7 separate regions of the Homo sapiens genome follow, and regions 1, 2, 3, 4, 5 and 7 are each linked to region 6. The links come from fine-mapping of genetic effects on plasma protein levels. Region 6 holds a variant in brackets. A gene starts in each other region. All regions are shown on their forward strands.

Region 1 (4,241 bases), not on the chromosome of region 6:
AAGTTGTCTTGAGGAGAGGCCGTGGAATGAAAGCCTTGGACCCTGAGTAGGAGTTTGCCTGGACAGTAGTGTGGGAAGACGGGCAGTGGAGAGGTGAGCAGCAGCAGAGGAAATGGCAAGAGGTGTGGTTTGGGATGTGGTCAGGGCTGGAGGCCACACTAGCATGGCTGGTGGGAGCCAAGTCCTTGAATACCCAAGAGTTTGGTGCCAGTCTTCTAGTGGGCCAAGTGCCTGTATTGGTTGTCCAAACCAGCTCAGACTGGCTCCCGTGCTCACATGTGGCTCAGTGAACTTGGTGACCTCAGGAGATGTGAAATAAAAGCAAACCCTCCCCACCACCCGCTGCCTTGGTGGTTTGGAGATCCAGATCCTCTCCACGCCTCTGTGTTGTGGCAGCCCCAGGGACAGTGAGCAGCTTAGCAGGGAGAGTGGGGTCCTTCGCTTAGTACATTACATCCCGAGCTTCCAGGGCAGGATAGACTAGGGGATGAAGGAAGGAAGGAAGGCAACACCCAGAGTACTCTGGAATCTGGTTTATTAGCTGGGGGTTGAAGTGGCAGGGAAGGACAGTGTTGGGGCGAGGCCTCCAGTCACCCAGTTCCTCCCCGGGCTGCTCCTCCCGACTGGACCAGGGTAGGTTGAGCTGCTGGGAGTGGAGTATCATGGGTGGCCCTTTCTGCAGGAGAAAAGAGCTTCCCTGCTGCGGAGGGGAGGCAGGCAGTGGGCAAGCCCCCCTAGCATCCGGTACAGGCAGCGTAGGCACAGATTTCACATGTGCCCGGGTCCTCAGCGATTTCCTCTGCACAACAGAGATGGAGCCTCGTGAGAACCAGCATTTCCTCGCGAGGCCCCTGCCGCCCTTGGCCCAGAGCTTGTACGTCACCACCCAGCCCCAGGAGAATCTCAGCAGGCCCGTACTCTGACCTACTGGGCTTTTCGCCCCAAACCAGGGCACACAGACCACTCAAACCAACCAATCAAAGCAGAGATTCCACCAGAAAGAGAGGAAACTAAGACCAGATGAATGGTCTTAGTTCCCAAACCTCAGCAGTTACAACTTGGAATTGAAGTGGGCATGGAACAGACCCACCAATCAGAGCCAAGCTCCCTAGTTCCACCAGTCAGAGCTGAGCCCTTCCTCCAAATCCCACCAATCAGAGCACATCTCTTCCTCAAGTGCCACCACAGTATTCCCGAACCCCACCAATCAGAGAGGAAGGAGGCTGCTCACCCAGCCTCTGAAGTATCTCCTGGGCATTGGGCTCCTTGCAGAGAGGCTTGAGTTCTTCTGGAAAGTTCGGGTTGCTACAGAGGATGGGAACCACAGGTTCACCAGGGATGGGTGCAAAGTTCCTGAGTTTCCCAACCCTGGGCTCCTGGGGCTCCTGGAGGTCTTTGAGCTTCTTCACTGACTCCAGAGAAAAGGAGAAATTTCCATCCTGGAAGAGAGAAGCCCAGAGCATGAGGCCAGGCTGCAGCCTGCTTCCTGGCTGTGCCCCCCGTGCTGGCCCCGGTCCAGCCCAGTGGTGCTCACAGGCAGTGTTCGTGGCATATGGGAGCCAGGCGATCCACAGTGGGGCACTGTGAGGGGCAGAGTTCAGGCCCCACGTCCTGGCTTGGCTCCGTGATGCTGGACACTCTGGAACCCGCAAATTCTGCATGTTGTATGGGGAATGGAGAAAATGGGTGTGAAGCTCCAGGAACACCATAGGTGCCTAATGAGTAGGAGCCAGTGTGCTGATTTTTAGGGAGAGGCAAAGGACCAGCACCCAGGCATCGTAGTTCCACGTGGCCAAGCCCAGGCTGTCTTTCCCCTGCCTGAGAGCGGTGCGGCTGATTACTGGGCCCCCAGCTCCAGCCTGCAGCCTGGTTTTGGTTTGAGAAGCAATAAAAGGCCTCCCGGAATCTGGCTTTGATAGAGATCAGGGCCCCCGCTAGGTGCCAGCTTGGCCTGTCGCCAGCATTGGCACTGGTAGGCATACCCATCTGTCAGGACCTCCAGGGTGTCCATGTGGTTCCTGGGACCCACTGAGGAGTAAGGTCTGGATTTAAATCCAGCTCCTGCACTTCCCACAGCCATGTGCCCATGGCCTGTTACAGAACCTTTGTGAGGCTCAGTTTTCCCCTCTGTAAAATGGGACTAATGATCCCTTTCTTCCAGGTTGATAGTGGAGCCACAGTGAGGGGCTGGGGAAGGAGCCGGCACATAGGACACTCAGTAAATTGGCCAACTCCCCGCCTTCCCCATATGGTTATTCCTCTTCCCTCCACTGGGTTTCTTTCTCCTCCAAAGTTGAAGGGAAAGGTGTGTGTGTGGCTGGACTGAGCAGGAGCTCCTCGAAGAAGGCCAAGCCTGGGACACACACCCTCAATCCAGCCCCAAAGAGGAGGTACTCTCTCAGGGGACCAGACCTGGGCACTAGGGGCAGGGAGCCAGCTGGGCCGGGGTAGGGACACAGGACTCACCTGCACGGTGACCCCTCCTGCCAAGGCGGCCCAGGCCCCAAGGAGGCACAGTGCGGAGAGCAGGAAGGCATTCATGGCAGCAGTGCCCGAGAGAGGGGTGGCTGTTCTGGATGCCAGGGGGAAGCGGCGGGACTTTTAAAGAGGGCAGGTTACTGAGTAACCTGGAAGCCTCTGTCAGTCTCATCTGCTCACCTGTCAGGCCTTATCAGATAAGGCTCGAGACAGCCCTAGGAGATAAGAGCCAGGCAGGGGGGGCCCCGGCCCCTCCCTGAGCACCTACTTTGACCCACAGCCGGGCTGGGTCCTGCATTCATTCACCAACAAGGCACATTCACTCACGACTGCCCTGTGCTGCTGTGTGGGGCCGGCAGACCCTGCCCTTGAGGAGGGGGGCCCAGCCCGACAGTGAAACGCAGGGCGATTAGGGTGGGGTGATCCTAGGATGAGGTGACGGGGCTGCACTGGGGGCTGAGCTCTGGAGAATGGGTGGAAGTTTTCCCAGAGAAGGGACTGAGGACAGAAGGCCATTTCATGCCAAAGGGACAGCCAGGAGGTGAGACGGGCCTGGAATATTCAGGGAAATGTGAGAAATTCCACGGGGGAGGCTGCAGGGCAAGTCAGGGTCTGGGTTTGATTGCCGCGACCTCAAGGAAGCCCTCCGCACAGCCTGGGTTCCGTTCCACCTACTGCCCAGTTGTGAGGCGTGTGAACTTGGGCCAATGCTTTCCCCTCTCTGAGTCTCGTTGTCCCTTGTGTCCCCTGTGGGAACCAAAAATAATACCTACCTCATGGGGTAGGTGTGTGGTAGGCATTACTGTTTGGAGAATCAAGTGAGGTTTTAAAAACATTTAGCTCAATGCCTGGCACACAGAAGGTGCTCAGCAGAGGTCCATTCCCATATTATTAGCAGCCACAGCAGCTCCTGGTCCTCCCTGGCCCCTCTGGTGACCTCCTGCCTGTCTGAGTCACAGGCTGTCCCCATCCTGTGCTGGTCCCCATCCTGTCCTGCCTGCCCTGCAGCCTCAGGGTGTCCTCGAATGAGCTCCTCCCCAATCCGCCCGCCCCCCTTGCCCCTGCAGATACAGTCCCCTTTCCGCGGATCTCACTGGGGAATTGCTTGGGTGTGCCCGCGCCCCTATAGACTCTGACCCCATTCAGACTGCGCCCTCAGGGCAGCGTGCATTCACTGTGTGCTGTTGTGAGCAGGAATCCCCAGGACACAGGAGAAAGGGTAGCCCTGGGATTGTCATCTTTCTACTCAGCCAACCTGGCCCGATGCCAGGACAGCCCTAGGGCGGGAGGTTGGGCAGGAATTCCTGGGTGGGGAGAGTCAACACTGAAGAGGGAATTGGAGAGAGCAGGGCCTGACCAGGAGGGAACTGCAGGGACAAGGCCCTCAGGGAGGGGCAGGTAGCTCCTGGCCCAGCTCCCAGGGCAGTCCTCACAGCTGCACTGGATTTCCCACCCCTTTCTGGTGAGTGTGTGTGTGTGTGTGTGTGTGTGTGTGTTAAGGGGGGGTGTGTCTGCGGAGATGTGTATGTCTGTGTATGCCAAGGTGTCTGTATATACCCTGATGGGTGTGTGTAGCCAAGGTGTGTTTGTATGTGTGCTTGTGCTGAAGGTGTGTGTGTGCTGAGGCATGTGTGTACACTGAGGAGTGTATGTGTATATATGCTGAGGTGTATGTGTGTGTATGCTGAGGGGTATATGTGTGTCCGTGTACACCAAGGTATCTGTGTCTGTGCAAGGAGGTGTGCATATATACATCGAGGTGT
Region 2 (4,241 bases), not on the chromosome of region 6:
ATGAATTCAGGTAACCAGATTCTACTTAAGAACAGTGACATTTTAATCTTTAAAAATGAAAACCCTCAAAATATTAGCCATTATTTCAATTTAAGCTCAAAATCCCCTAAACCAGCAGTCATCTGTGAAGCATTTTTTTCTTCTTCTTCTTGAGATGGAGTCTTGCTCCGTTCCCCAGGCTGAAGTGCGGTGACACAATCTCGGCTCACTGCAACCCCCACCTCCCAGGTTCAAGAGAGTCTCCTGCCTCAGCCTCCCAAGTAGGTGGGACTACAGGTGCCTGCCACCACGCCTGGCTAATTTTTTGTATTTTTAGTAGAGACAGGGTTTCACCTTGTTAGCTAGGATGGTCTCAATCTCCTGACCTCGTGATCTGCCCGCCTCGGCCTCCCAAAGTGCTGGGATTACAGGCGTGAGCCACCGCACCCGACCCTGTGAAGCGATTTTAACATGACACATGTCAAGCATGATAACCTGCTTGATTTGAACTCACTGCTTTTTCACTTCTTCAGAAATCTTACCTAAATGCTTTCAGAGTGACCCTTTCCAAACAGTGTCATTTTCCAAACGGGCCACTTCACAAAATAAAAGAAAACCAGGTGGGTTGAATGATTTTCCTTTGCATTTAGAAAATTCTTGAGTTTTTTAACCCTTGTACCATATCAAAAACTAGATCAAAGGTCTGATAAATGTCATATTTACCATCTCAAAAGATACAGCCAGTTCTCTTTTTTATATTGTAAAAAGGCCATGTCTCCATCTGGGCATTTGTTCCCACTCTTTTATTCCCCTGCGCCTACCCTTGATATTCACTGCCTTCTCCCGTTGGCACCTCAGCCTCTACAATGATACAACAAAATACAGATGTTTCCTCTTGCCCTGATAACAAGAGAAACTTCCCAGAGCAGCAAACGAGATCTCTAAATCTCCAAGCAATATGAACTTTCAAGCAACTCCTCCCCAAACGGCAAATCCAAGGGAGAAAGTGGGAGACAGAGATGGGCAGTTCTGCAGCTTTAATCAAAGTCTCCGTGCACTGCAGTTTCAAAGGGCAGGCATCCGTACCCAGAAAGAATAAGATCTTTAAAAAGAGGCTTTCTCTTTCATTTTTATGATATGCAAATACTCAGAGTTTATTCTGCCTCCTCAAAATGAAAACCTGTACAAAGTCGTAATTTGGCTCCAAATGTTGACTAGGTGATGTGGAGTAGTGCATTATCATGAAAAATTGTTCTCTGGAAAAGGATGACTTCCTGCCGGACTGACCATCACTCTTGCCTCTTCAGACCAGACCCTCTCTTTAGCTTTAAACTTGTCCAAAGCAGCCAAGTTCAGCCAGTATTAGCACTTCCTCCCTATCTCATAATCCACAACTATTAGGCTAAGTGGGACGGGGCTTGGGTTGGAGGTGGAGGGGAGTTGAGGGAAAGTTAATTATCATTTTAAATGCTATTCAAACAACAACAAAAAAGAATGTCAAAAAAAGCATAATGAGAGCTTTTAGAAACCTATACTACATACTGAGTTCAGAAAGGATGCTGGGAATAGGGTAAAAAGAGGGTGTTAAAAGGAATAGGGAAGGTTAGCAGGAGAGTTAAATACTAATACTAATAATGAAGAAGAAGAAGGGAACTAACCTGCATAGGGGATGGCGATGGGGAGCAGGAGGAGATGCAGGAGGACATGCTGCAGCAGCAGGGCTGGCAGGAGTTTGGTCACCCACATGGTGCTGCTGGACGGGCTGGCGGATCCCTCTGGAGGAGATGCCTGGGTGAAAGAATCCTGTTCGGAGTCAGTGCCTAAAAGAGCCAGTCGGCTCTGAGCTGCTTTTTATTGCGATGAGCTAAGTTTGTTGTGTGATTAACTGGAAAGATCTAGGTCTGAACTCCCTCTTACGGTAAGAAACTGTTTAACAACAGCCCTTTACTCTCTTCCAGCCCCCTCCTTTCCTCACTCGCCCCCCCTTCAACAGCACCAAACAGATCCCTGCAACCCCCCCCATTCCCCGCCTCCCCCCAACCCCACGCTTAGGAAAGAAACTTACAAAGAAAAGGTCACCTGGCCTGAGGCCAGCTTCAATTTGGAAGCTGGAGCTCCAGATCCCAGTGGCTCCTATCCGAGTAAGGAAGGGAGGAGCAAGGCTGAGCCCAATGGCTAAATCAAGGCACAGGCAGGGGACCAATTCGCTCAATTTAAACAGGAAAATACATGTGTTTATATATCTATTTGGGAAAAGAGGAAGGGGAAGCAGCATAAGAAGAAAGCGAAGAGCTGTCTTTCAGCCAAATGTGCCCCAGCTCCTAATCTGTCTAGTTTTCCTGCTAGAGCAACTGAGGGATTCAAAACACTGACACAGGTTCTCTAGGGGTTTAGAGACCTGGGAGAGGTGGGAGCGGGGCCAGGGAGGAGAGCCCAGGCACGTCCAGCCCAGGTAGAAAGAGGTTAGTTAAGAAAAGGGTGTGGTATTGTGGGGCCAAAATAAGCAAGCAAAACAAAAGCACGCAGATTGTCAGATGAAAAAATTGCCCCTGCCCCATGGGCTCAGAGCAGGCAGCTTTTTTTTTTTTTTTTTTTTTTTTTTTTTTTCACAAACTGCCAAACTCACGAAATACCACACATTTACCCAAAGTATACAAAATAAACTTGTCTGATCTGACTTTTTAAGAGAAAGTCCAAGAAACAGTCATTGTCCATAGCCTGTCCCTGACAGGTAAATATGCCATGTGGACTTGTACAGGCACACACGTGCACACAACACATTCACACATGTTGGTGTGTATGTACGTATACACTGGTTAGGACTGACTTTCACCGGAAATCCCTCAAGCTGTTTGAATTCGTGAGTACTGAATATGCCTCTCTTTTCCAGCTTCATCTGCCTGTACACGACAGCCAGCTTCCCAAAGTGTAAGTGGAAAGATGAGGAGCTTGTATGGGCATGGGGGGACTCCTAGGTATCAAATCCTTGTGAGATCATTGCCCAGACCCCTCACTTGATTCAGAGAATTTGTCTTTGCACCCAGAGGTGGATGCTCTGGTAACTTTAAGCAAGAGCCTGCTTTATTTCTAATGGATGCTGAGGGATACTTGCCCCTGTATCTCTCTGAGATGGATATTAGTAGAGAACAGTGCCCCTGTCCACAGAGGAAAAGAAAGCAGGCCAAATGTGGGAATGACTAGAGCGGTGGGTAGCTGTACAGAAGTGATTGTGGGGCTGAATTAAACTCATCCACAGAACAGCCTTCCCTCCACATACCACCTTCATTTGTCCTCCAGCTCCCTTACCCCCACTTTCAGGGAAAAACAACCTGCCTGATAAGTCCCTGAGGTTGTGGGATATCTAGAGAAGCTAGGGATTAAGAGAATTCCTTTTGAGGGATCTATTTTATATGACCCGTTTCTATTGCTAATCCTTCTCTTTTATCATTTTCTCCTTACTTAAAAATCATTTGTCAGCCTCTGTCTGGTGTCCCCAGGATCCATTTTACTTTCTTTTTACTGTTCAGTAGACTTTTTGGGAAATCTCAGTTCAATGCATAGCCTGACCGTGACCCTGAATTGCTCCACTGCATCTCTTGTGCTTTATTAGGGTGTAGGGGCTCAGAAAAATGATACCCCAAATGAAGACCTCAGAATCAGCTCTCTCTGACCTTCTCCTGCTCTCCAGTCTCCGGCCCTTCATTCTCCCCCAAGGCGAGGCATAGAAACTAGAATCCCTCTTTCCCAAGGTGGCTCCTAGAAACCAGAACCCTTTTTCCCAAACCAGCCATAAAACCTAAGCATATCACTCTAACACCTCAACTTTCTGTGTGAAATCTGGCCATAAAGACATTATCTGACCTACCTTGTTTGATCGTAGCTCATAAGACCCCATTCCAAAGAAGGTCCTGCCCCATACCCAGAAGGAATGAGTACTGCACAGAGATACCAGGAAGAATCTCACCTTGCCAGGCGTCCCCACTCAGTCTGTTAGCATGAGATCATATTCCTTTTGTCCAGTTGTATTTCTCCACACCTGCCCACACTTTGTTGAACCTAAGCATAAAAATGGACAATTTCTTTTGTAACTTTGGGTCTTTGTTCTAAAGGCTCTCGGGTTGTGTAAAATTATGATCAAATAAATGTGTATGCCTTTTCTTCTATTGATCTGCCTCTTGACAGTAATTTTTTTTTTAGCAAACCTTCAGAGAACAATGGAAAAGTTTTCCCTTGGCCCAACAAGGGATTAAGGCTGTTTTTAA
Region 3 (4,241 bases), not on the chromosome of region 6:
GATCCTCCAGATTGGAAGATCTGTTCCTCTAAACTCATATTACTCTATGACCTCACATTCCCGAGTCTAGAATCTAGTTCCTCCTGGGTCCCCTGTCCTAGCCTCTGATTCCCTAAATGCCTGGGCCTCCTCTCTTACCTTCAGTGGGTAGCAGGGGACCAGAGGAGAAGCATCCAGGTTTTATGTGCTGCCCCTGTCACCGCATCCACCTACCCACTTCTATACCTGGGTCATCACAGTTCCCTGTAAATGGTAATAAAGATGAAAAGCTTCAGAGCCAGGCAGTTCTGGGCTTGAACACTAGTTCTGTGGATTAACTCGCTCTGTGATCACAGGCAAATTCCTTAACTCTCTGAGCCTTAGTTTCCCCCTCTGAAAACAGGAGGGATACTCATTAAACTTACCTTACAGGTGGTGAGGATGAAACGAGAGGCTTATAGAGAACTTATTACGGTGCTTGACACAGTAAATCTCAAAAAATGCATTATTATTATTATGGTTCAGAGGTAAAGTGACTTGCCCAAGGTCACATAGCTGGAAAATGGCAGAGCCGGGATGGAAATCCAGGACTTCGTGACTGCAAAGCAGATGTTCATTGGTTAGTGAACTTTAGAACTTCAACTTTTCTGTAAAGGAAGTTAATTATCTCCATCTCACAGTCTCATTTATTAGATAAGCATATAAAATGCCTGGCACATAGTAGGCCCTTTAAATACAGCTTATTGGGCCGGGCGCCATGGCTCATGCCCGTAATCCTAGCACTTTGGGAGGCCAGGTGGGCAGATCACTTGAGTCAGAAGTTCGAAACCAGCCTGGTCAACGTAGTGAAACCCCATCTCTACTAAAAATACAAAAAATTTAGCCAGGCGTGGTGGCGCACGCCTATAATACCAGCTACTCGGGAGGCTGAGGCAGGAGAATTGCTTGAACCCGGGAGGCAGATGTTGCAGTGAGCCGAGATCACGCCACTGCACTCCAGCCTGGGTGACAGAGTGATACTACACCCCCCAAAAATAAAATAAAATAAATAAATACAACTTTTTGAGTTGTTAGCAGGTTTTTCCCAAATAGGGCTTTGAAGAAGGTGAATATAGACCCTGCCCGATGCCGGCTGGCTAGGAAGAAAGGAGTGAGGGAGGCTGCTGGTGTGGGAGGCTTGGGAGGGAGGCTTGGCATAAGTGTGATAATTGGGGCTGGAGATTTGGCTGCATGGAGCAGGGCTGGAGAACTGAAAGGGCTCCTATAGATTATTTTCCCCCATATCCTGCCCCAATTTGCAGTTGAAGAATCCTAAGCTGACAAAGGGGAAGGCATTTACTCCAGGTTACACTGCAGCTTAGAGCCCAATAACCTGGTTTGGTGATTCCAAGTTAGAATCATGGTCTTTTGGCAGGGTCTCGCTCTGTTGCCCAGGCTGGAGTGCAGTGACATAATCATGGCTCACTGTATCCTTGACCTTCTTTCTGGGCTCAAGCAATCCTCCCACCTCGGCCTCCCAAAGTGCTAAGATTACAGGAATGAGCCACCATACCTGGCCCTGAATCTTGGGTCTTGGCCTTAGTAATTAAAACCAATCACCACCATCCGTTGCGGACTTACAACCTACAGTGTTCTAAACATTTTATATGTTTGATCTCATTTAATCCTCACATCAATTTAGGGACAAAGAGCCCCCCACCCCCCGTTTTTTTTTTTACAGCTGAGGAAACACTTCAAAGTGGTAAGACATTTGCCCGAGGTCCTGAAGGAAGAGAGTAAAGCCATGTCTGCTGTTTTCTAGAGGCTGCTACTGTCCCCTTTACTGCCCTGAAGATTCAGCCTGCGGAAGACAGGGGGTTGCCCCAGTGGAATTCCCCAGCCTTGCCTAGCAGAGCCCATTCCTTCCGCCCCCAGATGAAGCAGGGAGAGGAAGCTGAGTCAAAGAAGGCTGTCAGGGAGGGAAAAAGAGGACAGAGCCTGGAGTGTGGGGAGGGGTTTGGGGAGGATATCTGACCTGGGAGGGGGTGTTGCAAAAGGCCAAGGATGGGCCAGGGGGATCATTAGTTTCAGAAAGAAGTCTCAGGGAGTCTTCCATCACTTTCCCTTGGCTGACCACTGGAGGCTTTCAGACCAAGGGATGGGGGATCCCTCCAGCTTCATCCCCCTCCCTCCCTTTCATACAGTTCCCACAAGCTCTGCAGTTTGCAAAACCCTACCCCTCCCCTGAGGGCCTGCGGTTTCCTGCGGGTCTGGGGTCTTGCCTGACTTGGCAGTGGAGACTGCGGGCAGTGGAGAGAGGAGGAGGTGGTGTAAGCCCTTTCTCATGCTGGTGCTGCCACACACACACACACACACACACACACACACACACACACACACACACCCTGACCCCTGAGTCAGCACTTGCCTGTCAAGGAGGGGTGGGGTCACAGGAGCGCCTCCTTAAAGCCCCCACAACAGCAGCTGCAGTCAGACACCTCTGCCCTCACCATGAGCCTCTGGCAGCCCCTGGTCCTGGTGCTCCTGGTGCTGGGCTGCTGCTTTGCTGCCCCCAGACAGCGCCAGTCCACCCTTGTGCTCTTCCCTGGAGACCTGAGAACCAATCTCACCGACAGGCAGCTGGCAGAGGTGGGCAAACACCTAGTCTAGAGTTGGGGAGGGCTGTCCGTGAGGGTGTTGAGTGTCCCAGAGAGGATGCAGGGCCTCAGAGGAGATGCTTTAGGGGTGTGTTGGTGGTGATGGGCGTATCTGAAGAACAGAGGTGTCCAGGGTTAGGCAGTGGGGGGTCTTGTGGAGGCTTTGAGCAGTGATGGCCAGAAATGGGCAATGGGGCTTTCCTAGGTGGGAAATGGGAAATGGTTTGGGGTGGGGGAGGCATTGGAGGGTTCTGGGGTAAGCATAGGCTGGGAGTGAACAGGGGCAAACCTTATGCAGCTGTGGGGTAGAAATGGGCTAGAGGCATCCAGGGGTGAGAAGGAGCTGAGGATGTCTAAGGAGGGGAGATCCCTGGGTGGTCAGAAAGCACTGGTGTCTGGAAAGCATTTAATGCTTTATTAAATGTTAGTCCCTGCTGGGCATGACGGCTCACACTTGTAATCCCAGCACTTTGGGAGGCTGAGGTGGTAGGATCGCTGAAGCTCAGGAGTTTGAGCCCAGCCTAGGCAACATAGTAAGATCCTGTCTCTACAAAAAAATTAAAGAAATAGCCAGGCACAGTGATGTGCACCTGTAGTTCCAGCTATGCAGAAGGCTGAGATGGGAGGATCGCTTGAGTCCAGGAGGTCCAGGCTGCAGTGGGCTGATACCGTCTCTCCGAAAAAGAAAAAGAAAAAAGACTCCCTCCATGAGTGTCTGGAGGGAGTCCTTTGGCCCCAGCTGGGCAGAGAAAGGGGTCAGAGATCTGGCATGTGTGTGTCCCTTCATCCACAGGAATACCTGTACCGCTATGGTTACACTCGGGTGGCAGAGATGCGTGGAGAGTCGAAATCTCTGGGGCCTGCGCTGCTGCTTCTCCAGAAGCAACTGTCCCTGCCCGAGACCGGTGAGCTGGATAGCGCCACGCTGAAGGCCATGCGAACCCCACGGTGCGGGGTCCCAGACCTGGGCAGATTCCAAACCTTTGAGGGCGACCTCAAGTGGCACCACCACAACATCACCTATTGGTGAGCCGGGGCCGTGGGGGCAGCGGGGTGGGGCGGGGAGGCCAGGTCTGGCTCTTGGGCCAGCGGTGAACATGTCCTGTCTTGGACGCGTCCCTGGGTTTCACTATTTAATGTGTGGCCCCTGGGGAGTGTCCCCACCTCTGAGCCTCTGTTTCTCCTTCAGGGAAATGGCTCTTGCAATCCAAGTCCTCCTGCCAGGGCCATTGTGAGGGTCTAAGTAGACAAAAAAAAAAAAAAAAAAAACAGTCTGGAAGCAATTTATAGATGAGAGCGTGGACGGCAGAGAGCATTGTGTATGTTGAAGTCTCTGCGATATGGGGTGTCCCTGCTGCCCCGCTCCAGCCTTTCACTTCTGACCTCCTTCCTCTGGCTCTTACGCTACAGGATCCAAAACTACTCGGAAGACTTGCCGCGGGCGGTGATTGACGACGCCTTTGCCCGCGCCTTCGCACTGTGGAGCGCGGTGACGCCGCTCACCTTCACTCGCGTGTACAGCCGGGACGCAGACATCGTCATCCAGTTTGGTGTCGCGGGTGAGAACGTGAGGAGGGAAAATCCAAGAGACCTGGGCGGGGTCAGGGAAGGGAGGACCACGGAGAG
Region 4 (4,241 bases), not on the chromosome of region 6:
AACAGGCCCCGGTGTGTGATGTTCCCCTTCCTGTGTCCAAGTGTTCTCACTGTTCAATTCCCACCTATGAGTGAGAACATGTGGTGTTTGGTTTTCTGTCCTTGTGATAGTTTGCTGAGAATGATGGTTTCCAGCTTCATCCATGTCCCTACAAAGGACATGAACTCATCATTTTTTATGGCTGCATAATTTTCACATAGCTTCGTTTCTACAATCACAACATTCCTGAGGTAAACAGGCAAGGTGTAATCATTCTTTTTTTACAGAGGGAGAACAAGGAACTTAGGGAAATCAAAATGGGGACACTAACAGGATTTCTGTGGAAATTTAAGTAAATGAGAATTTGTAGTAAATTTTTTATCCTAAAACAAATAACTCACTTTGGCCGAAAAATGGGATGTTACCCAAGGTCCCCTACTGGGCCGGCGGAGAAAAGGACCTGCCTCCTACAGGGGCACAAACAAGGCAGACTAGGACCCAGCAGTCGGCCAAGGCCCAAGGGTCTCCAGTAAGGAAAATGTAAAATGTGAGTGTGTGAGACTGGCCTAAGATATAGGAAGAGCAGTAAAGAGAAGAAAACTGACGAGCAGAGGGGGAAAAGAATTATTAAACATGGTCAAGGAGCAAGGAGCACGACAAAGCCTCAGGATTTCTTCAAGGGATACTGCTGTGCCAGGTCTCAAGGGCAGAAGGATACAAGCACAAGACACCAGGGCCACCAAGCTGATGGGGTTACTGAGCCTCTGGACAGCACCTTCTGATAGGAAGCAAGGAAGCACACTACAAAGGCTGCAATCCTGGAGGCTGAGACAGTCAAGAGGGAGTGGAAGGGCCTCTGCTGCTCTGGGAAGGTATCTTATAGGGCAAATAAGCTCTTACTGTGTGCCTAAGAGAAAGGAAGAGGGAAGCGAGGCAGGTGTCATGGCCTTAAGAACTTTCTAGAGGTTTCTATTTATTGACATTTGACCTAGACCTCTTCATGAGCAAGGCGCAGCCTTGGGCTACAGGTAGGAAAGTCAGCATCCTACTCTCTCCTCAATTCCATCTGTTAATCCACCAACCCAAATCCCTCCCACCCCCACCTGAAGTCCAAATAAGGTAAAATGATAAAATGATGTGCTGTTCTCTCAACAGTTGGCTGAGTCTGAATTGGAGGGTAGGAAGCATTTGAAGCTCTGCCCATTTAGTTCCAGAACAAAAAATAAGCAGAGGCAGGAGGTGGAGAGCAAAGACGCTGGCAGCCCTGCGTCTGGTCTTTATAGCTGTGTCTTTGGATTTGTAGGCCACTCCTCAACTTTTCAGCTCCCGCACGATTCCTTAGGGCAAGCGACCAGTGGTTGACACCGCATATACACCTGGCTTAAAGTTATTGACTCGCTGCCAGTTGGAGACCCAGCTGTCCTCTGGACTCATCATCGCAATGATTCCATCAAAGGAGGAGCTGGTGCAGCCATATAGCATCTCTCAGTTACCCTTCATCTGTAGATATGCATCTCAATAGTCACAACCATCATATTCAAACTGGTCTATAGTACCTTGACCAGTGAACACAGCAAACAGGCCCACAGATGCCACAGGTCCTTCAGCACCGTCTCCAGGGCCATCTTCTCCAATGAGAAGAGCAACAGCAAGGAAGATGGCCACAGCCTGAGCACCCGCAGGAAGTAAACAGCTCGTTAGCCGGGTCTCTTCTTATAATTCCATCATGAGGACCCCATTCTCATGACCTCATATTAAACCTAATTACCTCCCAAACTTTTGACCTCCAAATGCCATTACGTTGGAGGGTAGTGCTTCCACCAATGAATTTTGAGGAGATACAGACATTCACTCCCTAACAGTGCTATAAATGAAGTCAGGGACCCTGATGGTGTCTTTATCACAGAATCTTACATTTTCTTTGTCTTTGCCTTAACACAACTCTTTTTGCTCACCTAGAAAGTTCTTGGGATTTAATTAACTGCTCTATCATCTCTTCCTCAACTCGAAAACAAAGGTTGCTGTGTCTTCACATGCCATGTACACACAAGGTATACTTTAAAAGTTTTTGTTCATTGTTCACATTGTCTTTTGCTCTCTTAGACTCAACTTTTTATTCAGTCCAGAGAACTTTTTAGTATAGAACTCACCCCAAGAATATAACTGCCTTTGAAAATATAATATTCACAAAAAGAATTTAAAAAGAGGGGACATTTACTAAATTTTTATTGGGCATAACAATTATTTCTTTTAGGGCGTTGCTAAATTTTTTGTCTAAATGAAAAAAAAAACAAATTGAGAAATTCCACATTTCACACTGATCTAGTGATCTCAACATACTTGTGGGTTTCTACTAACTGTTGTTTGGTATTGCTTTCTCAATTTCCTTTTTTTTTTTTTTTCGCCTCATCTCCCGGAATGTATCAAAGGAAACCCCTGTCTTTGAAAAAGACTTCTTTTGAGCTAACTTTCTTATACTGGTACCTTTCTAATCTCACTACAATATGTAACATTGGTGTTCGATCTCAAGTATTTCTGAATATATTCCCCTATCCACAGAAATATACTCTGGGGGAAAAAAAATAGAACAAATTCTTGCCGTCCTGACCATTGAACAAGAGACTAATTAGACAATGGGGCTAGAAAAACCTCAAAGTAAACGTGAGTACTTTCTCTCCTTTCCATTTCAAAGAAGCAGATGGAATTATACTAATTTAAAACATATGAATTGATGGTAGTTTTAAAGATTGTTGATGATGACGGGGAGAAGGAGGTGGAAGGAAATAAAAATGACGTTGGTGAAGAGGAAGGACATAGAGTCAAATAAGTTGGATAACAGAAACTTCTTTATAAAATGTATATTGGACCAAGAGGGGAGATAAAATATATAAAAGAGAAATAAGATGAAAAGAAAGAGAGTAATATGAGAAGATTCTTTTAAAGAAAAAAGAGAAAAGGAAGATGTAGAAAAAGCATTTAGGCTTATGCTGTATCAGAGGCTCTAACTGTCCCATTTTATGTTTGACTTAAGTGACACCAGTGGATTTGTATTGTGATAATATTAAATAATATTTTTGATAGATATATAGAACAAGTGTGGAAATGTTTAAATTAAAATTAAAGTTTTACTTTATCTCATCACCCTACCATGGCAAACTGTAATCACAGTGTGATCCTATTGAATTACCTTTTTAGGTAACAATATTTCTTAGAGATTTTTTGCATCAATATATACTGATTACATGCTTATTTAATTACTATACAGAATATCATTGTGTGAAGGGACCATAATTTAGAATTTCCACTATTGATAATATACATGTAAATATTAGATTACAGTATGTGTTTTCTATTTTGAGAAGTACTGCAATGAATATCTTTTAACATAAACAAGCTCAATTATTTCTATAGAATAGACACCTGTAATTGAAATTATTGTGGCAAATGAAATGCATTTAAAAATGGATAAATGCCACTAAATTGATCCTTCTAAAAGGCATTCCTAATTTTCCAGTCCAGGCAGCAGCATTTATTTTCTCACTAAGAGTGCTTATTTCCCCTCAGCCTTGCCAACACTGCATGTACTTAATTTACTTAAAAAATCTGATGTGTGAAAAGTTATACCACAATCTTTTCGTTTACAGTTCCCTGATTGGGCATATTTTTGTTTGATTAGTGGCTATTTATAACTTCAGCAAATTAAAATTTCAGCAAATTTCCTGCTCAGAGTTTTGCTCAGTTTTCTAGTTGATTTTGAAATACTTTATCCAGTGCGGATATTAATATTATGAGAAGACTTTCCTTTCATACGTTCCTTGACTCTAACATTGCTTGTGTTATATAGAAGTTTTAATTTTTATGTACTCAAATTATCTATTCTAATGGCTCTTGGGTTTTGTATCTTACTTATAAAATTCTTTTCATTTCAAAATTACCAAGAAATTTTACATTTTTCTTTCTTATTTATTTATTCATCAATAAGCTCTAAAATTGATTTATTTGGAGAAAATATTTATGCTCTTCTCTAGATCTGAAATATTTGGTTTGCTGTCACTTTTAGATTGCTCCTTGGTAGAATTAGCTTTCCTAGCTTGTAGCTGAGAGGAGGTTAATCTCTATTTTTCTTTTGGTCCTAGTGGAAGGAGGCATGCATCCCCAGCTGATACCTTCGGTTATTGCTGTAGTTTTCATCTTACTTCTCAGTGTCTGTTTTATTGCAAGTTGTTTGGGTAAGTTATTAGCCAAAGTAGAACTCTTCTTGA
Region 5 (4,225 bases), not on the chromosome of region 6:
CTGGAGGCCCCACAACCCCTCCACACCTCACACCACTTCCCTGCCCAGCTTCTGAGCCTCCCTCTCCTGCCCAGCCTCTTTGCCCATCCTATTCTCTCACCCCCTGGTTCCCAGAGTTGCCTCTACATCTTGACATCACCTCCCCCTGGAAGCCTTCCAGGGATGCCCCTTCTCTACCTGTGGAGATGCCAGGTTCTCAGTGGACCACTCTCTCTGCCTGACCTCCTGGCTCTCTCCCCTTCTCAGCATCCTTCTGCCTGGCGCCTGGCCTCCCCAGTTCCCGGAGGGCAGAGGGTGCCTCTGCTCCCCACCGGCACCCGTGGGCAGACCCAGCAGGCGGGTTCTGGCGGGGAGGAAGGAAGTACTTACTGAGCAGCGTCCTCTGTGTGAGCAGTACCCCCATGCTGGGTGCCCGTGCTCCGGCCCGCGCCCGCTGGGGGTGACACCTCTCGGCTGGGAGCCCTGCAGGCTGGCAGCCACTTTATGCCCGCTGGGGCGATTGGCCAACACCTCATGAGGTGGGTGGGGATGGGGAGGGGGGAGGGCAGGCCTTCTGGGAACATGACCCCAAAAACCAAAATTTCCACGGGCGGCCAATGGGCGCAGGGCGCGGTGTATGCCCGCTCCTCCTCCTGTTTTCTTCGAATTCGTTCTTCGAGGTCAGCCCTACGCCCAAGGATGATGTAAAACCGCAGCCTCAGCCTTCCTAGGGTGAGTGGGGAGGAAAAGGGTCCATGCCATCTTCAGGGAACTGGGCCAGGGATGGGCAGGAGGGACTTCGAGCTGGGCCTCTGGAGGCCCCAGGCCAGTCTTGGCCCAGGAGCCATTGGCCTCACAGGACACGGTGGTTGGGGGCTGAGGGGAGCGAGACATCTTCCTTCTTGAGTGCCCTTCCTGCCCTCTCGCCGGGGCTGTTGGGACATCTGTGAGCGGAAACCACCGGGCTCTGGGCACAGAGCCAGACGCAGGCTGGCAGCCCCGAGATTGTGGTTCAGGCCCCAGGACCAGCATCCCCCAGCCCGGCTCCCGACGGTCTCCTTTCCCCCATCGTGCACCCTCTGCCAGGCCCACTCCCCAAAGCCAGGCCTTGTCTTTGTAGGCAGGCTCCACTGGGGAGAACTGGACACTTGGAGCAAGAGAAACAGGAGGCCAGGGTTCAAGCCTGCTGAGGTGCTGTGTGACCTGAGGCAAGTCACTTAACCTCTCTGGGCCTCAGAGACCCACAACTATAAAATGAGGAGGAGAAAAGCCTTTCCCAGCCCACCTCACAGGGTTGCTGCCAGCATGGACATAAAAGGAAAAGACCTCTGAAGGAAAAAGCAAAGATGAAGGTCTGATTCCAAGTATTAGCTGTCGAGGGGGCGGGATGGGGGAAGGAGGAGATGGGGAAGCTGTGAGCTCAGAGGGGAAGCCGGGGAGGGGGAGTTGCCGCCTTGACAGTTGGGGACCAGGTTTCACTTTCTCTGAAAGATAGCGATCTTAGGTTGGTCCTCTGCGAAAGGGCCCTGGGAACAGCGCCTCCCTAGTCAAACTGCTACTTTACTGTGGGGTAAACTGAGGCCTGGGTGAAGGCAGACAGGGAGGCCAAGAGGCTGGCCCAGGCCTATAGACCCTGCCTGGTCAGCACATCTCCCAGGCCCAGAGGAGGGTCCTTGGCCTGCACCCTAAGAAGCCCGGGTGGGAGGAGGCCCTCAGGAGTCTGGGGAGTCAGGGTGGGACTCCTGGAGGCTGCCAGGGAGGCCTGAGCTGCTCCAGCTGGAGGGAGCATGGGGTCTGGGGCGCCTGAGCAAGGAGAGCTGGGGCAGCCAGAAAGGAGGAGGTTGGATGCACCCCTGTCCATGCCTGCTCCCGATGCCCACTGTGGCCACCAAGGCAGTTGCCACCCATTCTCCCCATCACTCATTTATTCATTCGACAAACCTTTATTTGGCTCCATGCTGCACCAGCCACTCCCAGGTCTGAGGATCACGTAGTAGGCAAAAATAGGCGACCCCACGCCCAGGAGGCTGCTCTTCAGCCCCTACCCACTCCCCGGCACCCAGGCTGGGACTCACCACACCAGGCCTCATACCTCCCCCTCACCACCCCCAGGGGCCAGTTCTGGATTCTCATCCTGAGAATGTCGCTTCCGCTGAAGTCCTCATCTCTGTGCCCACCCCCACAATGCTGTTTCCTGGGGCCATGCCAAGAGGGGATCCTTCTCCATTTCACATCCCTGATCTCGTCTTTTTTTCTCTTTTTTTAAATGCAGGATCTTGCTCTGTCACCCAGGCTGGAGTGCAGTGGCGCCATTGTAGGTAGCTCACTGTGGCCTCCAGCTCCTAAGCTGAAGCAAGGCTCCCCGCCTTAGTCTCCTGAGTAGCTGAGACCACAGGCATGCATCACTATGCCCAGCTAATTTTTTTATTTTTTGTAGAGACGGGGTGTCACTATGTTGCCCAGGCTGATAACAAACTCCTGGGTTCAAATGATCCTCCTGCCTTGGCCTCCCAAAGTGCTGGGATTGCAAGCGTGAGCCACAGCACCCAGCCACCGATCTCATCCTGCAACAGCCAGGGGAGAGAAGCCGCTGGGCAGTGACACCTCAGCTCACTTCAGTGAGGAGCTCGAAGCTCTGGGAAGTTTAGGGGCTGGCTCAAGGAAGGAGCGCCAGATCTGAGCAGAGGGGTCTAGGCCATTTTCAGCTGTGGCTGACCGACCACCACGCTTGGTGAGAAACAGCCACATGCCTTTATCTTATTCTATCTATCCTGTGGTCCAGGGAGGCCGTGCTGTCTCCTCATGGCAGAGAGAGGAGGTTGCTTTGTCTGAGGTCACCTATGAATAGTTAAGAGGAGAGGGGCATTTGGCCAGGCATGGTGGCTCACGCCTGTAATCCCAGCACTTTGGGAGGCCGAGGCAGGAGGGTCATTTGAGCCCAGGACTTCGAGACTGTGTCTTTACAGAAAATGTAAAAATAAATTATCCAGACATCGTAGTGCATACCTGAAGTCCCAGCTACTAGGGAGGTTGAGGCAGGAGGATCGCTCGAGCCCCGAAGGTTGAGGCTGCAGTGAGCCATTATCATGCCACAGGACTCCAGCCTGGGTGACAGAGCAAGGCCCTGTTTAAAAAAAACAAAAAACAAAAAACCCACCAAGAAAAGAAGGCATTCAAACGAGGCCCAAAGACCATACTCTTTGCACATAGTTAATGAGGGTGTCAGGCACAGGGCCCAGGGCTCAGAGTCACTGAAGGTAAGGAGAGCAGGTAGATTACATTGCTAGGACTCCCATAACAAAGTACCACAGACTGGGGGGCTTACGTAACAGAGATTTATTTTCTCACAGTTCTAGAGGCTGAAGTCTGAAATCAAGGGCTGGTTCCCAAGGCCTCTCTCCTTGACTTGTAGATGACTGTCTCTCCCCGTATCTCCACATCATGTTCCTTCTGCTTGTCCGTGGCCTAATCGATTTTTTTTTTTTTTTGAGACAGAGTCTAGCTCCGTCACCCAGGCTGGAGTGCAGTGGCACGATCTCAGCTCACTACAACCTCTGCCACCTGGGTTCAAGCGCTTCTCCTGCCTTAGCCTCCTGAGTAGCTGGGATTACAGGCGTGTGCCACCACGCCAGGCTAATTTTTGTATTTTTAGTAGAGACAGGGTTTCGCCATGTTGTCCAGGCTGATCTCGAACTCCTAACCTCAGGTGATCCACCTGCCTCAGCCTCCCAAAGTGCTGGGATTACAGGAGCGAGCCACCGCGCTTGGCCTTATCTCTTCTTATGAGGACACCATTCACATTGGATTAGGGCCCACTCACATTTTACCTTAATTATTCCTTTTTTTTTTCTTTTTCGAGACAAAGTCTTGCTGTGTTGCCCAGGCTTAAGTGTACAGTGGTGCTTTCATAGCTCACTGCAGCCTTGAACTCCCGGCCTTAAGCGAGCCTCCTGCCTCAGCCTCCAGAGTAGCTGGGATTACAGGTATGTGCTACCACACCTGGCCAATTTTACCTTAATTACTTCTTTTTTTTTTTCTTTTCTTTTTTTTTTTTTTTTGAGATGGAATCTCACTCTGTCACCCACGCTGGAGTGCAGTGGCGCCAGCTTGGCTCACTGCAACCTCTGCCTCCCAGGTTCAAGCAATTCTCTGCCTCAGCCTCCCGAGTAGCTGGGACTACAAGTGCCCACCACCATGCCTGGCTAATTTTTGTATTTTTTTAGTAGAGACGGGGTTTCACCATGTA
Region 6 (4,241 bases):
CCCCAGAACACATCATATGGATAAAGTGTAGTAACTTTTTTTTTTCTGAGACAGAGTCTTGCTGTGTCACCCAGGCTGGAGTACAGTGGCATGATTTTAGCTCACTGCAACCTCCACCTCCTGGGCCCAGGTGATCCTCCCACCTCAGACTTCCGAGTAGCTGGGACTACCACCACACCAGGCTAATTTTGTGTGTGTGTATTTTTAGTAGAGACAGGGTTTCTCCATGTTGGCCAGGTTGGTCTTGAACTCCTGGCCTCAAGTGATCCACCCGCCTCAGCCTCCCAAAGTGGTGGGATTACAGGTGTGAGCCACCGCGCCCGGCCTAAGTGAATAACTTTTAGAAAGCATGCTTAGTAGTAGGGTTTGAAAAATGTTAGCTCCTCCTGCCCCTTCACACTGCTAGAAAGTGCTTTTTTGTGTTTTTCTCAAACTTGCCCACCCAGGACTTCTGCTATGATTTCCAACCTGCCTCCTGGGACGTTAGGCACGTCTTTGTCTTCCAGGCCGGGATGTCTGTCCTCTACCTCCCAGCTGCGAGAGAGCTCTTAATTGGTCACCTGGGTAGGGGTAAGGAGGAGAGGGAGGGGACAAGCTGCTCCCTGGGCACTCACTGTCTGTTGGATGGTCAGTCCCCATGGGTGTGTTATATGCTCAGTGGGGACAAGGTTGGGGGGGACACCATGATACTGACGATATGCAGAGAGAAACTGGATAGGCATGGAAGAAGCTGCATTTACCACACAAAAGAAGATCCCTTGGCCCCCTATCCCTATCTCCAACCCAGATTTCCCTGGACTCTTCACGGGGGTTACTTCAGGGGGATTCCCTGGTAGCCTCACAGGCTCAGGGGCAGGACTGCTGTTGATAGATATAGAAAGTGCCAGAATAGAGGAAGATGTAAAAAGTGAAGGAATAACTGAAGAAGGAGACCCTTGGAAATACTTCCTCAAATACCAGAACACTAGGCATGGGCCCAGAGCCTCCCAGAGAGTGGGAAAATGAGCTGGAGAGAACTCTGTAATGCCTGCAGGGGGCTGTTGGATGCCCACTGGCCAGAAATGCCTCTGCAGGCAGTAGGCATTGGGTGTGAAGCAGGGCCAGCCAGCCTCAAAGGCCCCTTCCCATGAACTCAAAATTACCTGCTCTGGCACCCCCAGGTCCTCAGATTCTAGAGCTCAGAATCCTAGATCTAAAACTCTGATCCTGAGGTTCTAGAGAGGGGTAAGAAAACTTCAAGTAGCTGGGACTACGGGTGTGTGCCAGCATGCCTGGCTAATTTTTAAAAGAATTTTGTAGAGATGGGGTCTCACTTTGTTGCCTAGGCTGGGCTTAAACACCTGGTTTCTGCCTTGGCCTCCTGAGTGGCTAGGATTATAGGCATGAGCCACCGTAGCCAGCTTGAGCTAACTTTTTTTAAAGGTCAGATAGTGAATATTTTAGACTTCACAGGCCATATGGTCTTTATCACAACTACTCAACTCTTTGTAAACAGATGGGCACCGTTGTGTTCCAACAAAGCTGAATTTACAAAAGCAGACTGGATCTGGCCTTTGGACTATAGTTTGTCTACCCCTGTTCTCAAGTTTGACAATTGTGTGATCCTGATATTTATTCATTGATCTCATGCATTCTCAAGGTTCCAGAGCTTGGAGGTTCCAGGTCCAGATCCAAGTCAGATGGCAATGAAAGCCCTGGTCAGGTGGCTGTGTCAGGTCCCCTAGGGGCGCTCCGGCCACAACCCTGATGGCCCCACCCCTCCCTTCCCTGCAGGGCGATGGCAGCAGACCTGGGCCCCTGGAATGACACCATCAATGGCACCTGGGATGGGGATGAGCTGGGCTACAGGTGCCGCTTCAACGAGGACTTCAAGTACGTGCTGCTGCCTGTGTCCTACGGCGTGGTGTGCGTGC[C/T]TGGGCTGTGTCTGAACGCCGTGGCGCTCTACATCTTCTTGTGCCGCCTCAAGACCTGGAATGCGTCCACCACATATATGTTCCACCTGGCTGTGTCTGATGCACTGTATGCGGCCTCCCTGCCGCTGCTGGTCTATTACTACGCCCGCGGCGACCACTGGCCCTTCAGCACGGTGCTCTGCAAGCTGGTGCGCTTCCTCTTCTACACCAACCTTTACTGCAGCATCCTCTTCCTCACCTGCATCAGCGTGCACCGGTGTCTGGGCGTCTTACGACCTCTGCGCTCCCTGCGCTGGGGCCGGGCCCGCTACGCTCGCCGGGTGGCCGGGGCCGTGTGGGTGTTGGTGCTGGCCTGCCAGGCCCCCGTGCTCTACTTTGTCACCACCAGCGCGCGCGGGGGCCGCGTAACCTGCCACGACACCTCGGCACCCGAGCTCTTCAGCCGCTTCGTGGCCTACAGCTCAGTCATGCTGGGCCTGCTCTTCGCGGTGCCCTTTGCCGTCATCCTTGTCTGTTACGTGCTCATGGCTCGGCGACTGCTAAAGCCAGCCTACGGGACCTCGGGCGGCCTGCCTAGGGCCAAGCGCAAGTCCGTGCGCACCATCGCCGTGGTGCTGGCTGTCTTCGCCCTCTGCTTCCTGCCATTCCACGTCACCCGCACCCTCTACTACTCCTTCCGCTCGCTGGACCTCAGCTGCCACACCCTCAACGCCATCAACATGGCCTACAAGGTTACCCGGCCGCTGGCCAGTGCTAACAGTTGCCTTGACCCCGTGCTCTACTTCCTGGCTGGGCAGAGGCTCGTACGCTTTGCCCGAGATGCCAAGCCACCCACTGGCCCCAGCCCTGCCACCCCGGCTCGCCGCAGGCTGGGCCTGCGCAGATCCGACAGAACTGACATGCAGAGGATAGAAGATGTGTTGGGCAGCAGTGAGGACTCTAGGCGGACAGAGTCCACGCCGGCTGGTAGCGAGAACACTAAGGACATTCGGCTGTAGGAGCAGAACACTTCAGCCTGTGCAGGTTTATATTGGGAAGCTGTAGAGGACCAGGACTTGTGCAGACGCCACAGTCTCCCCAGATATGGACCATCAGTGACTCATGCTGGATGACCCCATGCTCCGTCATTTGACAGGGGCTCAGGATATTCACTCTGTGGTCCAGAGTCAACTGTTCCCATAACCCCTAGTCATCGTTTGTGTGTATAAGTTGGGGGAATTAAGTTTCAAGAAAGGCAAGAGCTCAAGGTCAATGACACCCCTGGCCTGACTCCCATGCAAGTAGCTGGCTGTACTGCCAAGGTACCTAGGTTGGAGTCCAGCCTAATCAAGTCAAATGGAGAAACAGGCCCAGAGAGGAAGGTGGCTTACCAAGATCACATACCAGAGTCTGGAGCTGAGCTACCTGGGGTGGGGGCCAAGTCACAGGTTGGCCAGAAAACCCTGGTAAGTAATGAGGGCTGAGTTTGCACAGTGGTCTGGAATGGACTGGGTGCCACGGTGGACTTAGCTCTGAGGAGTACCCCCAGCCCAAGAGATGAACATCTGGGGACTAATATCATAGACCCATCTGGAGGCTCCCATGGGCTAGGAGCCAGTGTGAGGCTGTAACTTATACTAAAGGTTGTGTTGCCTGCTGAGCTGTGCCCTATTGTGTGGTCGGGGGATGAGGATATGGCAGGGAAGCTTTCACCAGCCACACAAGGGTCCTTTCTCCAATCCGTTCCCTTCTGCCACCTGCCTTCTCACTAGCTGTCTCAGGAGTAGTCTCATATCAGGGATCCTCTCTCCAGGCCCCAGGTCATCCCCCACTGTAAAGCCAGTTGGCTTCTGTGCCTGACTCTGTGCTGAGCACAGAGAAAAGTCAGGTGCAGTCCCAGTCCTTGAGATTTCCCAGTTTAGGTGATGGCCAGTCATGTGCTGGTAAATGTTAAGCCATTTAACTGGAGCTCCGATTTAACTGGGAACCCCTTCTTTGTAGAACTGCCCATTTCCATGGTGCAAAAACTCTTATGGCCAAATTCAAACTATAAACATGATGTCAACTTCCTTGTAAAATTCCTGAAAATTTAACAATTGGTTCTTGCAAGCAGGTACAAGTCACTCTAGCACACCACTGGATAATGCCGAGTGGCTGGGGCTGTGAGCCAGGGGGTCAGGGAAGGGTTCCTGGAGTGGGAGACTCCTGAGCTGTAGCTTCTGAGAAAAGCAGCTCACCGGAAGAACATCCACACACAGGATGCATCCCAGGCAAAGACATGGGGCAAGAGGGCAGGGTGTGCATGAGCCATAAGCAGGCTGGACAGCTGACTCCAGGCTCAAGGCAGGG
Region 7 (4,235 bases), not on the chromosome of region 6:
CGTGAGCCACCGCGCCTGGCCTCATCACTCTTAAATAATGAAAAACTAAATTTTTAGAGGAAAAAGAAAATCACAGGACCCTGTGAAGGAAGGTATGTGTTCCCTTTTTCTATAGATTCTCTTTGTCCTGTGTCCTTGGTAGGCAGAGACCATTAATCCAACTGCTGCCCCTACTAGTGATTTTCCAATCATAAACCAATCCGATTCTTTGCAGTAGGTACCGATCTAACCAAGATTCTGAAAGAAAAATCAATCTCATGATTATTGTAAAATTCAGACCCTCAATATTTACTACACAAATAATGAATGAGTAAAGAAACGAATGACTATTGTTCACTTCTGGTTTTACCTATAAATATCAGCAGTTTTTATAGCAATTTAGTTCATTGGCTCAAATGTTAAATCACTCCATGCTCACACTTATGTTCTCTATTGAGAGAAATTTCTGTTTTGTTTTTGGAAATGTAATTTGGAATTTCTTTATCCAAATTTCTGACAATACTTGTCTCTCTTTCTCTCCTTATATTCTGTTCATTTTCCTCAGAACAGATATAGAATAAAAGGCAATTTACCCAGATTGTCTGTGGAATTGGGATTATGAATTAATTTATAGCTATGCAATTTAATTACTGTATGGGTCAAACAGAACTTACAATTTTTCAAAGCAGTAGTACACAACAAAATGTAACTTATGCTAAACTATACTGAATATCATTTACTTTGCCTGCATAATTCATGAGGTACTTCAGGTTTTTGTAGTGCCTGAAGGACTCTTACAGAAATTATCGTTATATACACCAGATAAATTTGGTTCCCGAGCCCTCCGATGTATAGAATTCTGGATAAATGGGAGTTTGTGGTACAGTCCTAGCTCTACCACTTATTAGCTCCGTGAAACTGGATGATGTTGTTAGTCCTCCTGATGCCCAGTTAGCTCTCTGTAAAAGGGAGATAGTAATAGTACCAATCTCAAAATGTTATTGCGAAGATTCTGAGAAATAATACTCTGAAAGTGAATAACATATAGAATAACCTGTAGTAAATACTCAGTATAAATTGTTATAAATAAGTTGTCATCATCATCATCATTATAGCCTTCTTGTTTTTCTTTTAAGTAAATGGTATTAATTCTATTTTCCCATACTTGGGTGTTTAGCTTTCTAATCCCATTCTTCGGTGAATTTACATTTTGGGGCTAACACTGGGATTCTTTCCCTGTACACATTTTCCCATCCCTAGTACCTTTAGCTTTTTTTCCATTTGACTTCTCATCAGGCTGGTCCTTCACAGTCTGGATCTTTAGGTCATCAAAAGTCATTTCCAAATTCAAGCTAAGAATGAGAGAGTGAAGCAGTCACGAACTTCAACAAACTAAAAATATGTGAGCTTCTGCAGAAGTATTTAAATAGCTACTGTTATCTAATAGAAGAATGACTCAATCATTGGTAGGAGGAAGGAGAGGCTTTGCTTCATATTGGGAAGTTCGCTGACGCAAATTCTTGAGTTATGTGTATTGCAGGTGGAGAAAGTGGTGATTCTGAAGGTGTTTCAGGATATTTCGCTAAGTAATTTATGAAAGGGAAAACTATTTTTCATGAGCATCAGAGGAGAGATATTGTACCCACTCTTCAGAGACAGAAACTGAAATTCAAAGAGAGTAAGTCACACTACATTTGTAAAAAATGTGCCAGAATTATGGGCCAAAATATTTGATTCCAATGTTTGTTTGCTAATTTCATTAGCAGACTGTTTCTATATGGTGTCTTTTACGAATCAGATATATTCTCTTTTGATTTTCACTGTTTTATCTGGCAATGGATCTAAGAATTTTGGGGTGAATCACATATGGCTCCCATTTCCAGCGATGGTGTGTCCTGGGTGATTTTAGAATTTATCTGGGGCTACTAGTTCATGCAGTGCCAGTGTAACGTAGCAGCAGAGAGCACTTTGAATGCAGAAAGAGCTAGTTTCAGTACTTTCCTTTAGTCTACAATCTTGGGAAATCTTAATACTTTGAATCTATGTCTTTGTCTGGAAATTAGGGATAATGTCTACCTGATAACATTGTTATAGGAATTCAAATGACATGTCTGGAAATTAGGGATAATGTCTACCTGATAACATTGTTATAGGAATTCAAATGACATGCTGGGTAAAAATAATAAGCTTTTTTACACTAGGTTTGTGAAAAATGTCACGTTGCTATAGGAATTCAAATGACACGCTGGTTAAAAATGACAAGCTTTGTACTTGGAGCATAATAAGAAGCCAATAAATAATAATTATTAGTATAGTACTAATATTCAGCACAGTTGAATTACCCATCAAATAATGTATTTCAGTAAAATCCATGATTGACTCATGTCACAAAGACGCTTACATGAGAGACCCATAAGTATGTCTATATGTATTTACTGATAGAATACTTTTCTATTTTCCCTTGACAACCTCCTAACCAGATATATATCTATTAGAGATGTCTTCTGAAGGAAGTATTTATAAGCAAAATGATATGATATCTGGCATTTACTTTAAATTACTCCAGGAAAAAAAAGTGCAAAGAAAAGAATACACAAAGGAAGAATGGAAAAATAAATACATAAATAAAACATATAGGAAACTATTAGGAAAAATTACCAATATTGACAGCCTAATTAGGATTCCATTTCCCTCCTCCTCCCTGTTTCCTATATTCCTTTTATTATGTGCAGAGTATTTGAGAACAAATTGAAAAAGTTGGCCAGGTGCAGTGGCTCATGCCTGTAATCTCAGCACTTTGGGAAGCTGAGGGGGGGGGTGGATCACTGAGGTCAGGAGTTCGAGACCAGCCTGGCCAACCTGTTGAAACCCTGTCACCACTAAAAATACAAAAGTTAGCTGGGCCTGGTTGCAAGCCTATAATCCCAGCTATTTGGGAGGTGGAAAATGAAAATGCTTTTCATTTTCAGTGAGCTGAGATTGTGCCACTGTACTCCAGCCTGGGCAACAGAGCGAGACTCCCTTTAAAAAAAAAAAAAAAAAAGAATTAAAAAATACTGAAACGATATCACACTGAAAAGGGCACATTATCATTTCTACAGTGACTCAGTTATTTTGGATGCCATGAATATTATAGAACATAAAGTGTTTACCATTTCAACCATTTTTAGGTGTACTGTTCAGTGGCATTAAGTACATTTACATTGTTGTGCAGCCATCACCACCATCCATCTCCAGAACTTTTCATCTTCCCCAACTGAAACTCTATACCCACCAAGCAATAACTCCTGTGATGGTGAATTTCATGTGTTTTGTTTGTTTGTTTGTTTGTTTGTTTTTGAGATGGAGTTTCACCCTTGTTACCCAGGGTGGATTGCAATGGCATGATCTCGGCTCACTGCAACCTCCGCCTCCTGGGTTCAAGCAATTCTCCTGCCTCAGCCTCCTGAGTAGCTGGGATTACAGGTGCCCGCCACCCCTCCCGGCTAATTGTTTTGTATTTTCAGTAGAGACAGGGTTTCACCATGTTGGCCAGGCTGGTCTTGAACTCCTGTCCTCAAGTGATCCGCCTGCCTCAGCCTCCCACAGTGCTGGGATTACAAGCGTGAGCCACCGTGCTGGCCTTCTGTGTCTTCTTGACTGGGTCATGGGGTTCCCAGACAGGATGCTTTTAAATGAGATTAACATATTAATCAGAAGAGGAAAGTAGATTTCGCTGCATAATGTAGGTGGGCCTCATCCAAAAGTTGAAGGCCTAAAGAACAAAAAGCTTCTAACCTTCCCCCAAATAAGAAAGAATCCCCCAGCTGTCTATGGACTGGAACTCAGCCATCAACTCTCCCAGTTCTCCACTCGCTGGCCGAGTCTGGCAGCCCACACTCCAGATTTTAAATTACCAGGCTCTATAATCATACAAGCCAATTCCTTATAATAAACCTATTTCTATGTATGTACACAGCGTATTGATCCTCTTTCTCTGCACAGACCTAATACAAATCCCAATTCCTTTCTCCTTTCTTGGAAACCACCGTTCCATTTTTTTGTTTCTATAAATTGGTTTATTTTAGGCACCTCATACTGGTGGAATCATATAATATTTGTCCTTTTGTATCTAAATTATTTTATTTAGCATTATGTCTTCAACAATTATCAATGTGGTAGCATGTGTCAGAATTTTGTTCCTTTTAAAGTCTGTATAATATTCCATTGTATGTATAAACCACATTCTACATTTTATTTATCCATTGATGGACGTT

Which allele goes with the higher level. Alleles are on the strand shown, and positions count from the first base shown. The strength of an association depends on the size of the effect and on how common the allele is.
For the plasma level of the protein whose gene starts at base 2,574 in region 1, allele C in region 6 goes with a lower level than allele T (weak association).
As copies of C replace T in region 6, the plasma level of the protein whose gene starts at base 1,801 in region 2 goes down (weak association).
In carriers of allele C in region 6, the plasma level of the protein whose gene starts at base 2,451 in region 3 tends to be lower than with T alone (moderate association).
For the plasma level of the protein whose gene starts at base 2,383 in region 4, T is the high allele of the variant in region 6 and C is the other (moderate association).
In carriers of allele C in region 6, the plasma level of the protein whose gene starts at base 455 in region 5 tends to be lower than with T alone (moderate association).
In carriers of allele C in region 6, the plasma level of the protein whose gene starts at base 1,373 in region 7 tends to be lower than with T alone (moderate association).

The links. PIP is the posterior inclusion probability: the model's chance that the variant is causal. Protein levels are from antibody-based Olink assays in UK Biobank. Linkage for the fine-mapping came from a reference panel and not from the study's own genotypes, which makes the PIPs less certain.
Region 1: GUCA2A starts here. The variant in region 6 is fine-mapped to the plasma level of the GUCA2A protein (UK Biobank, PIP above 0.99).
Region 2: it holds the start of HGF, and the variant in region 6 is fine-mapped to the plasma level of the HGF protein (UK Biobank, PIP above 0.99).
Region 3: MMP9 starts here. The variant in region 6 is fine-mapped to the plasma level of the MMP9 protein (UK Biobank, PIP above 0.99).
Region 4: CLEC4D starts here. The variant in region 6 is fine-mapped to the plasma level of the CLEC4D protein (UK Biobank, PIP above 0.99).
Region 5: it holds the start of OSM, and the variant in region 6 is fine-mapped to the plasma level of the OSM protein (UK Biobank, PIP above 0.99).
Region 7: OLR1 starts here. The variant in region 6 is fine-mapped to the plasma level of the OLR1 protein (UK Biobank, PIP above 0.99).

What each region holds. Positions count from the first base shown.
Region 1 is chr1:42,162,172-42,166,412 of GRCh38, forward strand. GUCA2A (guanylate cyclase activator 2A) reads right to left here and starts at 2,574. Exons shown (of 3, transcript NM_033553.3): 1 at 2,467-2,574; 2 at 1,232-1,439; 3 at 519-799. The coding sequence starts at 2,541. The coding sequence ends at 735. RefSeq lists an enhancer at 2,434-3,398.
Region 2 is chr7:81,768,247-81,772,487 of GRCh38, forward strand. HGF (hepatocyte growth factor) reads right to left here and starts at 1,801. Exons shown (of 18, transcript NM_000601.6): 1 at 1,638-1,801. The coding sequence starts at 1,725.
Region 3 is chr20:46,006,458-46,010,698 of GRCh38, forward strand. It overlaps MMP9 (matrix metallopeptidase 9), which reads left to right and starts at 2,451. Exons shown (of 13, transcript NM_004994.3): 1 at 2,451-2,607; 2 at 3,409-3,641; 3 at 4,026-4,174. The coding sequence starts at 2,470.
Region 4 is chr12:8,511,121-8,515,361 of GRCh38, forward strand. CLEC4D (C-type lectin domain family 4 member D) reads left to right here and starts at 2,383. Exons shown (of 6, transcript NM_080387.5): 1 at 2,383-2,640; 2 at 4,116-4,208. The coding sequence starts at 2,613. It also overlaps the pseudogene SUPT4H1P2.
Region 5 is chr22:30,266,397-30,270,621 of GRCh38, forward strand. OSM (oncostatin M) reads right to left here and starts at 455. Exons shown (of 3, transcript NM_020530.6): 1 at 370-455. The coding sequence starts at 403.
Region 6 is chr11:73,232,383-73,236,623 of GRCh38, forward strand. It overlaps P2RY2 (purinergic receptor P2Y2), which reads left to right. Exons shown (of 3, transcript NM_002564.4): 3 at 1,774-4,241. The coding sequence starts at 1,778. The coding sequence ends at 2,911. Among named protein-coding and RNA genes, the nearest start is that of P2RY2, 16 kb to the left of the region's middle. The variant C/T (reference allele first, on the strand shown) is at 1,914.
Region 7 is chr12:10,170,760-10,174,994 of GRCh38, forward strand. OLR1 (oxidized low density lipoprotein receptor 1) reads right to left here and starts at 1,373. Exons shown (of 6, transcript NM_002543.4): 1 at 1,243-1,373. The coding sequence starts at 1,318. It also overlaps a transcript of TMEM52B not described here.